Homo sapiens: one gene and its partner. The protein of the gene in region 2 interacts with the protein of the main gene of each other region in a biochemical or structural test. Each region holds a gene or a part of one and is shown on either strand. Other genes may lie near its edges.

The links. Proteins that work in one complex are often made in the same cells at the same time.
Region 1: the proteins of ABCC4 (region 2) and SHANK1 interact in a test that uses a peptide from one of them, tested with the Homo sapiens proteins (one large-scale study listed by IntAct).

The regions. Positions count from the first base shown.
Region 1 is NC_000019.10:50,706,268-50,709,916, forward strand, and holds part of SHANK1 (SH3 and multiple ankyrin repeat domains protein 1), read right to left. Parts: intron 1-3,649. UniProt on the Homo sapiens protein: Seems to be an adapter protein in the postsynaptic density (PSD) of excitatory synapses that interconnects receptors of the postsynaptic membrane including NMDA-type and metabotropic glutamate receptors via complexes with GKAP/PSD-95 and Homer, respectively, and the actin-based cytoskeleton.
Region 2 is NC_000013.11:95,294,947-95,298,595, forward strand, and holds part of ABCC4 (ATP-binding cassette sub-family C member 4), read right to left. Parts: intron 1-3,649. UniProt on the Homo sapiens protein: ATP-dependent transporter of the ATP-binding cassette (ABC) family that actively extrudes physiological compounds and xenobiotics from cells.

The sequences.
Region 1 (3,649 bases), on a different chromosome or scaffold from region 2:
TTCTGCCAGGCCCAGAAGGAAGGGGACACACATTGTGGAGGAAAGGGTGGGGGCAGGACTGGGCCAGTGGGGACAGGGATGCCTTCTACATTCAGATCAATTTCTCACCGGTGTCAATCACATGGCACCCATCATCACTTTTTGGGCTAAGCACAAAGTCCATGCCACGGCCTAGGAGGGTTAGGGTTAGCTGAGCTAACCTGAGCTGCCTGCCCTGCCACTCCCCACCCTGACCCTCACCAACTTCATCTTCTACCACCTGCCCTTGCTCCCAGGCTGCAGCCACACTGGCCACCTCCTTCCTCTGACAGCACACTAATGCCCCAGGACCTTTGCACGGCTGCTCCCTCTGCTTGGAATCCTTTCCCGCTAGATCTCAGCATAGCTTGCTTCCTCACTTCGTTCAGGCTTTTGCACAAATGCCGCCTCTTCAGAGAGGTCTTCTCTGGCCATCCTGTCTAAAAAAAAAACCCTTGTCCTCTTCCTTGCTTTATTTTTATTTATTTATTTATTTTTAAAATTTTTTTGAGATGGAGTTTCGCTCTTGTCACCCAGGCTGGAGTGCAGTGACACGATCTCGGCTCACTGCAACCTCTGCCTCCCAGGTTCAAGCGATTCTCCTGCCTCAGCCTCCCAAGTAGCTGAGATTACAGGCACCCACCACCATGTCTGGCTAATTTTTGTATTTTTAGTAGAGACAGGGTTTCCCCATGTTGTCCAGGCTGGTCTCGAACTCCCAACCTCAGGTGATCCGCCTGCCTTGGCTTCCCAAAGTGCTGGGATAACAGGCATGAGCCACCGTGCTCAACCCTTTGCTTTATTTTTTAGTACCACACTGATGTATGTGCCAGGCACTCTAAGCCAATGTTAACTCATTTTCTTCGTAACCCCGTCTCACTGAAATTCCATTTCCTGTTATTTGTCTCAGTAGTGTCTCTTCTCCTCTACACCATAAGTTGTACAGGGGCATGATTTTGCCTGTGGCACCCACCACCTGGATTAATGCTGGACCCACAGGGACTATTCGGTAGAAGGAGTGTCCTCTCCCTTTTATCTTGGCCTGGCCAAACCCAACTTGGCCTCCAGCTCAACTCTACCCCAGCGCCCTCTGATGCTAATTTAACCACCATTTCCCAAGCACCTCCTTGATCTTACCCCTTCCACATGACAAATCCACCAAGGGGTTTGTATGGGCCTATGTTACAGGACAGGTTCAGAGAGGGCAGATGCTACGCCCAGGGCCACACAACCAGTTAGTGGAGCAGTTAGGATTCCAACAACCTGGCCTTCTTCTTCCTTTTTTTTTTTTTTTGAGACAGAGTCTCGCTCTGTTGCCAGGCTGGAGTGCAGTGGCGTGATCTCGGCTCACTGCAGCCTCCACCTTTTGGGCTCAAGCAATCCTCCTGTGCACCTGGCCTTCTGATCCTATGGTTCACCTATCTCCTATGAATGGACGACTCTGACTGCCAAAGTCACACATCGGGCAGCAGAGTTAGCCCAGTGTGTGTTCTGGGTGTGTTTGGGAGTGTGTGTGTGCATGTGAGTCTGTGTATGCCCGTGCTGCTGGCCAACTAGACTGTTAACTCCTGCCATGTGTACTTTTGCGTGTTTTTCTTTTCTTTTCTTTTCTTTTCTTTTCTTTTCTTTTCTTTTCTTTTCTTTTCTTTTCTTTTCTTTTCTTTTCTTTTCTTTTCTTTTGAGATGGAGTCTCACTCTGTTACCCAGGCTGGAGTGCAATGGCGCGATCTCAGCTCACTACAACCTCTGCTTCCTGAGTTCAGGCAATTCTCTGCCTCAGCCTCCCAAGTAGCTGGGATTACAGGTGCCCGCCACCATGCCTGGCTAATTTTTGTCTTTTTAGTAGAGACAGGGTTTCACCATCTTGGCCAGACTTGTCTTGAACTCCTGACCTCGTGATCCGCCTGCTTCAGCCTCCCAAAGTGCTGGGATTACAGGTGTGAGGCACCGCGCCTGGCTTTTTGCATGTTTTCACAGCCCCAACACCCACACTGGGGGCACAGGGCCAGAGCACAGCCCCTAAGGTCACCTGCTCCTCATCCTACTCTTACAAAGCTGAGAAGGTGTGCAAGTCAGAGTTGATGGCTCCCTCCCCTGGGCACCAAGAGAAACTCGCATTTAACGGCATCCTAGCACTTATCTCATGTCGTAGCCATGATTTGCTTACACGTCTGCCTCCTCACCAGACTGTGAACTCCCACCCCCCCCAACCCCGCCCTCGCCCTCCCCAGGCCAGATGCTGTGTCTGATTCATCTCACATCCCCAAGGCCTGGTGCTGTGCACATAGTAGGTGCTCAAGGAACGTGCATGGAAAGGATGAGGATGGAGGATGTGGGGTTGAGTCAGTCAAAATTCATTTGTTCGAGTCATTCATTCATTGGTTGAGTCATTCAGTCTGTTGAAACAAGCAAACACCTGTTGAATGCTCTGAGCCAGGCACTGTGCACAGTCTTGGTGGAAATCCAAGAGGGCTGACCCCATCATTCATTCACTCATTTTCATTCATTCATTCACTCACTCAACAAAGATGGAACTAGGCCTGCTGTTTGCTGGGGTCCTGGAACAGAGCAAGTAATCAGACTCAACCCCCACCCTTGAGGTGCTCACAGCCTAGACACGGATCTGACATTCACCACCAAATGCTAGACGGGCATATCAGGAGGCCAAGGCGGCAGAGGCTGAGGAAAAACTGTCAGACTCAGCCCTGGCTCTTGGAAAGCTTAAAGCCTGGGAGGAAGACAAGGGGGGAAATGGAGGAATCAAGTTCGTATGTGTTATGCATCGGTTTGTTAAGCCCATGGCAAAGGCAAGCAAACCTATTAACCCACTTGATCCTTTTGCATGGTAGATATTTATTTATTTATTTTTTTGAGACGGAGTCTCGCTCTATCACCCAGGCTGGAGTGCAGTGGCATGATCTTGGCTCACTGCAAACTCCGCCTCCCGGGTTCACGCCATTCTCCTGTCTCAGCCTCCCGAGTAGCTGGGACTACAGGCGCCCGCCACCACGCCTGGCTAACTTTTTTTTGCATTTTTAGTAGAGACGGGATTTCAGCGTGTTAGCCAGGATGGTCTCAATCTCCTGACCTAGTGATCCGCCCGCCTCGGCCTCCCAAAGTGCTGGAATTACAGGCGTGAGCCACTGCGCCCGGCCTGCATGGTAGATATTAATTATTGACCCATTTCACAGCTGAGAAAGGAGATCAAGGAGGGGAAAATGACTTGTGCAACTGTCCCACTAAGAAAACTCTGCCTGCTGTCTAATTCTAATTTTTTTTTTTAAGGCAGGGTCTCACTCTGTCACCCAGGCTGGAGTGCAGTGGCATGATCATAGCTCACTGCAGCCTCCACCTCCCAGGCTCAAGCAATCCTTCTGCCTCAGCTGCCCGAGCAGCTGGGACTTCAGGTGCATGCCACTGTGCCCAGCTAATTTTTGTATTTTTTCATAGAGACCAGGTTTTCCCACGTTGCCCAGGCTGGTCTCGAACTCCTGGGCTCAAGCCATCCTCCTGCCTTAGCCTCCCAAAGTGTTGGGATTACAGGCATGAGCCACCGTGCCTGGTCTAATTCTCTATACCAAAATTTCTCTGTTTATCTGAACGGTACAGTTTCTGTCTCTCGACTGGACCC
Region 2 (3,649 bases):
TCCATCTCAAAAATTAAAAAATTAAAAACAAAAAATAAAATAAAAATAAGGCACTCAAATGTTTGCTAAATGAATAATCTAAACCGCAGAGGATCAAGGCAGTAACCTTGGCCTCCCAGACACCGATCAAGTAGAATTGGACACCAAAGACTGAGAAAGACCTGAGAAACGTGGCTCCCAAATCTCAGCATCTGAATCAACCAGGAAATAATGCTTTAAAAAATGCAGATTTCAGGATGCTCAACCCCAAGAGACTGTGATTCTGCAGACACAGAAATTTACTATTTGGCCGGCCACAGTGACTCACACCTGCAATGTCAGCACTTTGGGAGGCCAAGGCGGGAGAATCACTTGAAGCCAAGAGTTTAAGACCAACATGGGCAACACAGCGAGACCTGGTCTCTACCAAAAATGTATTAATAAAAATTACTGGCCAGGCACAGTGGCTCGCCCCCGTAATCCCAGCACTTTGGGAGGCCGAGGTGGGTAGATCACAAGGTCAGAAGATCAAGACCATCCTGGTCAACATGATGAAATCCCATCTCTACTGAAAATACAAAAATTAGCTGGATGCAGTGGCGTGCGCTTGTAGTCCCAGCTACTCAGGAGGCTGAGACAGGAGAATCACTTGAACCCTGGAGGCAGAGATTGTAGTGACCCAAGATCACGCCACCGCACTCCAGACTGGGCAACAGAGCAAGACTCCGTCCCCCGCCCCTCAAAAAATTAGCTAGGTGTCCAGGTGCGGTGGCTCATGCTTGTAATCCCAGCACTTTGGGAGGCCAAGGAGGGCGGATCACAAGGTCAGGAGTTCAAGACCAGCCTGGCCAACATACTGAAACCCCATTTCTACTAAAAACACACAAAAAAATTAGTTGGGCATAGTGGCAGGCACCTGTAGTCCCAGCTACTTGGGAGGCTGAGGCAGGAGAATCACTTGAACCCAGGAGGCAGAGGTTGCAGTGAGCTGAGATCACACCACTGCACTCCAGCCTGGGTGACAGTGAGACTCCGTCAAAAAAAAAAAAAAAAAACACTTTAGCTAGGTGTGGTGGCGTGCACCTGTAGCTCAGCTACTTGGGAGGCTGAGCTGGAAGGATCACTTAAGCCTAGGAATTTGAGGCTACAATGAGCCATGATTGCATCACTGCACTCCCACCTGGGCAACAGAGCAAGACCCTGTCTCAAAACACACACACACACACACACACACACACACACACACACACACACACACAAAAACACAAAATTAAATGGCCAGGAATAGTGGCTCATTCCTGTAATCCCAACGCTTGGGAAAACCAAGGCAGGAGGACTGCTTGAGCCCAGGATTTTGAGACCAGCCTGGGCAACATAGTGAGACCTCATCTCTACAAGAAAAATATTTTTTTTATTATAGAAAAAGAAAATATAAAATTAAACATTTGATGCATTGACTGAGGGCCTCACACACCCTTCCTCTCTAAGCCATCCCCTGCCCTCAGCCACTTGTGTTTGCTTCTATAGTCATGTCATCAGCTCTCTAGGGCAGGTCTCCAGAGAGTCTGTCTGGTCACCAGTGGCAGTTTCCACAGCAGCACAGGCTTTGCAAGATGACACTTCACCCACTGAGATATGGCCAGCAACAGGGGAGCAAGGATTTAACCACTTTCTGTGGGCCAGATGCATCTGGAGATCCCTCTCAATGCCCATATTTAGGGAAAAGTCCTTCGTTGTTAGCCTCCACCCTGCTGCTGACCCCAGATCACCTCTGGATCAGGTGTGGGCAGAGGAATGCAAAGTGCCTGCCGGGCACCAGGGGGCAGCAGGACAATTCCTAGGAGAGTCTCAGGGATTGACCCATCTTGTGCCCAGCTGGCCACAGTTCATAGGCTATGCCACTTATTTCCACTAACGGGAAAGAGGAGGAATTATTCAATAAATGATAATGGGGAAAACGAGCTGTTTGGGGAAAAAATGGGGACTATCTCATATCAAATACCAAAAGAAATTCTAGCTGCCTTTATTGTTAGAAATGAAACAATAGCTAAAAGAAAATGGAAGGCCAGGCACAGTGGCTCACACCTGTAATCCCAGCACTTTGGGAGGCCGATGCAGGTGTATCACCTGAGGTCAGGAGTTCGAGACCAGCCTGGCCAACATGGTGAAACCCTGTCTCTACTAAAAACATGAAAATTAGCCAGGTATGGTGGTGGGCACTTGTAATCCCAGCTACTTGGGAGTCTGAAGCAGGAGAATCACTTGAACCCTGGAGGCGGAGGTTGCAGTGAGCCGAGATCACACCACGGCCAGCCTGGCAACAGAGCTAAAACTCTGTCTCATAAAAAAAAAAAAGAAAGAAAAAAGAAAGAAATAGGTGAAAATACTACCTTTAAAAATCCACAATTGCCAACAGCCATAATGCATGACTCCTTTTAGACTCCAAGTCCAAATTATGCTATAAATACACCAAAATCCCGGGAAAATACTTTGAATAAAAGTCAGTAAGCCAGTTATTGGCATCATTTAGGTAGGCAGCTGCCAGTTCACAAGTTCAGAAAGCAGATGATATTTGAGAAGAAAAGCAAACACTCAACAAGAAGGTGAAAAAGCAGTTTTTCCCTACAAGGTGGGCCCTGTCTCCAGGCAGCCACTTCCTGGATGGGCTCATTTCAGCTTTCCACTGGCAGTGGGAAGGGTACACAAATACTGACCTAAAAGCAGGAGGCTAAGGCACAAAATATAACTCAAGAATTTACTACAGACCCAGTGTGGTGGTTCATGCCTGTAATCCCAGCACTTTGGGAGGCCGAGGCAGGCAGATCGCTGGAGCTCAAACTCCTGAGCTGTGGATTACAGTGTCCTTGGGGCACTGTTAGGTTAATCTGTAGCTATGTGGCAATATGAAGTACTTTCGAGTGATAAGTAAATAGCTCAAGGGGGTGGGAACTACGAGGTGACTGCTGTGTCATTTTAATGTCTCTCTGGGCCTGATAATTTAAAAGGACTCCGCATTCCTCAGATGATGATTATTATTATTTTCTCACTATGAGGCCTCAGACTTTAAAATCCCTCAAACTGGCCCAGGCACAGTGGCTCATGCCTGTAATCCCAGCATTTTTGGAGGCCAAGGCGGGCAGATCACCTGAGGTCAGGAGTTCAAGACCAGCCTGGCCAACATGGTGCAACCCCATCTCTACCAAAAATACAAAAATTAGCTGGGTGTGAGGGTGCACGCCTATAGTCCCAGCTACTTGAGAGACTGGGGCAGGAGAATCACTTGAACCCAGGAGGCAGAGGTTGCAGTGAGCAGAGATTGCACCACTGCACTCCAGCCTGGGTGACAGAGCTGAGCAACAGAGAAAGACTCCGTCTCAAAAAAAAGAAATAAAGAAATTTTAACAATTAAAAATAAAGAAAAGCATAATACTGTAATAATACTCCAATGAAAGGAGTAGCTGGAAGCAGTAAGCGCCTCAAATCAGGATCACCTGGAGCACTTGAAACCTCACCACCCCCACCCACACACCCAGTGTTTCCAGTTTTACTGAATCAGTCCAGAGTGGATGCTGGAGAATCTGCATCTCTTAGAATCTCCCAAGTGATGCCGATGCTGCTGCTCTGAGTGCTATGCTTTGAGAACAGCTGCCCTAAAGCACACTAATAGTTG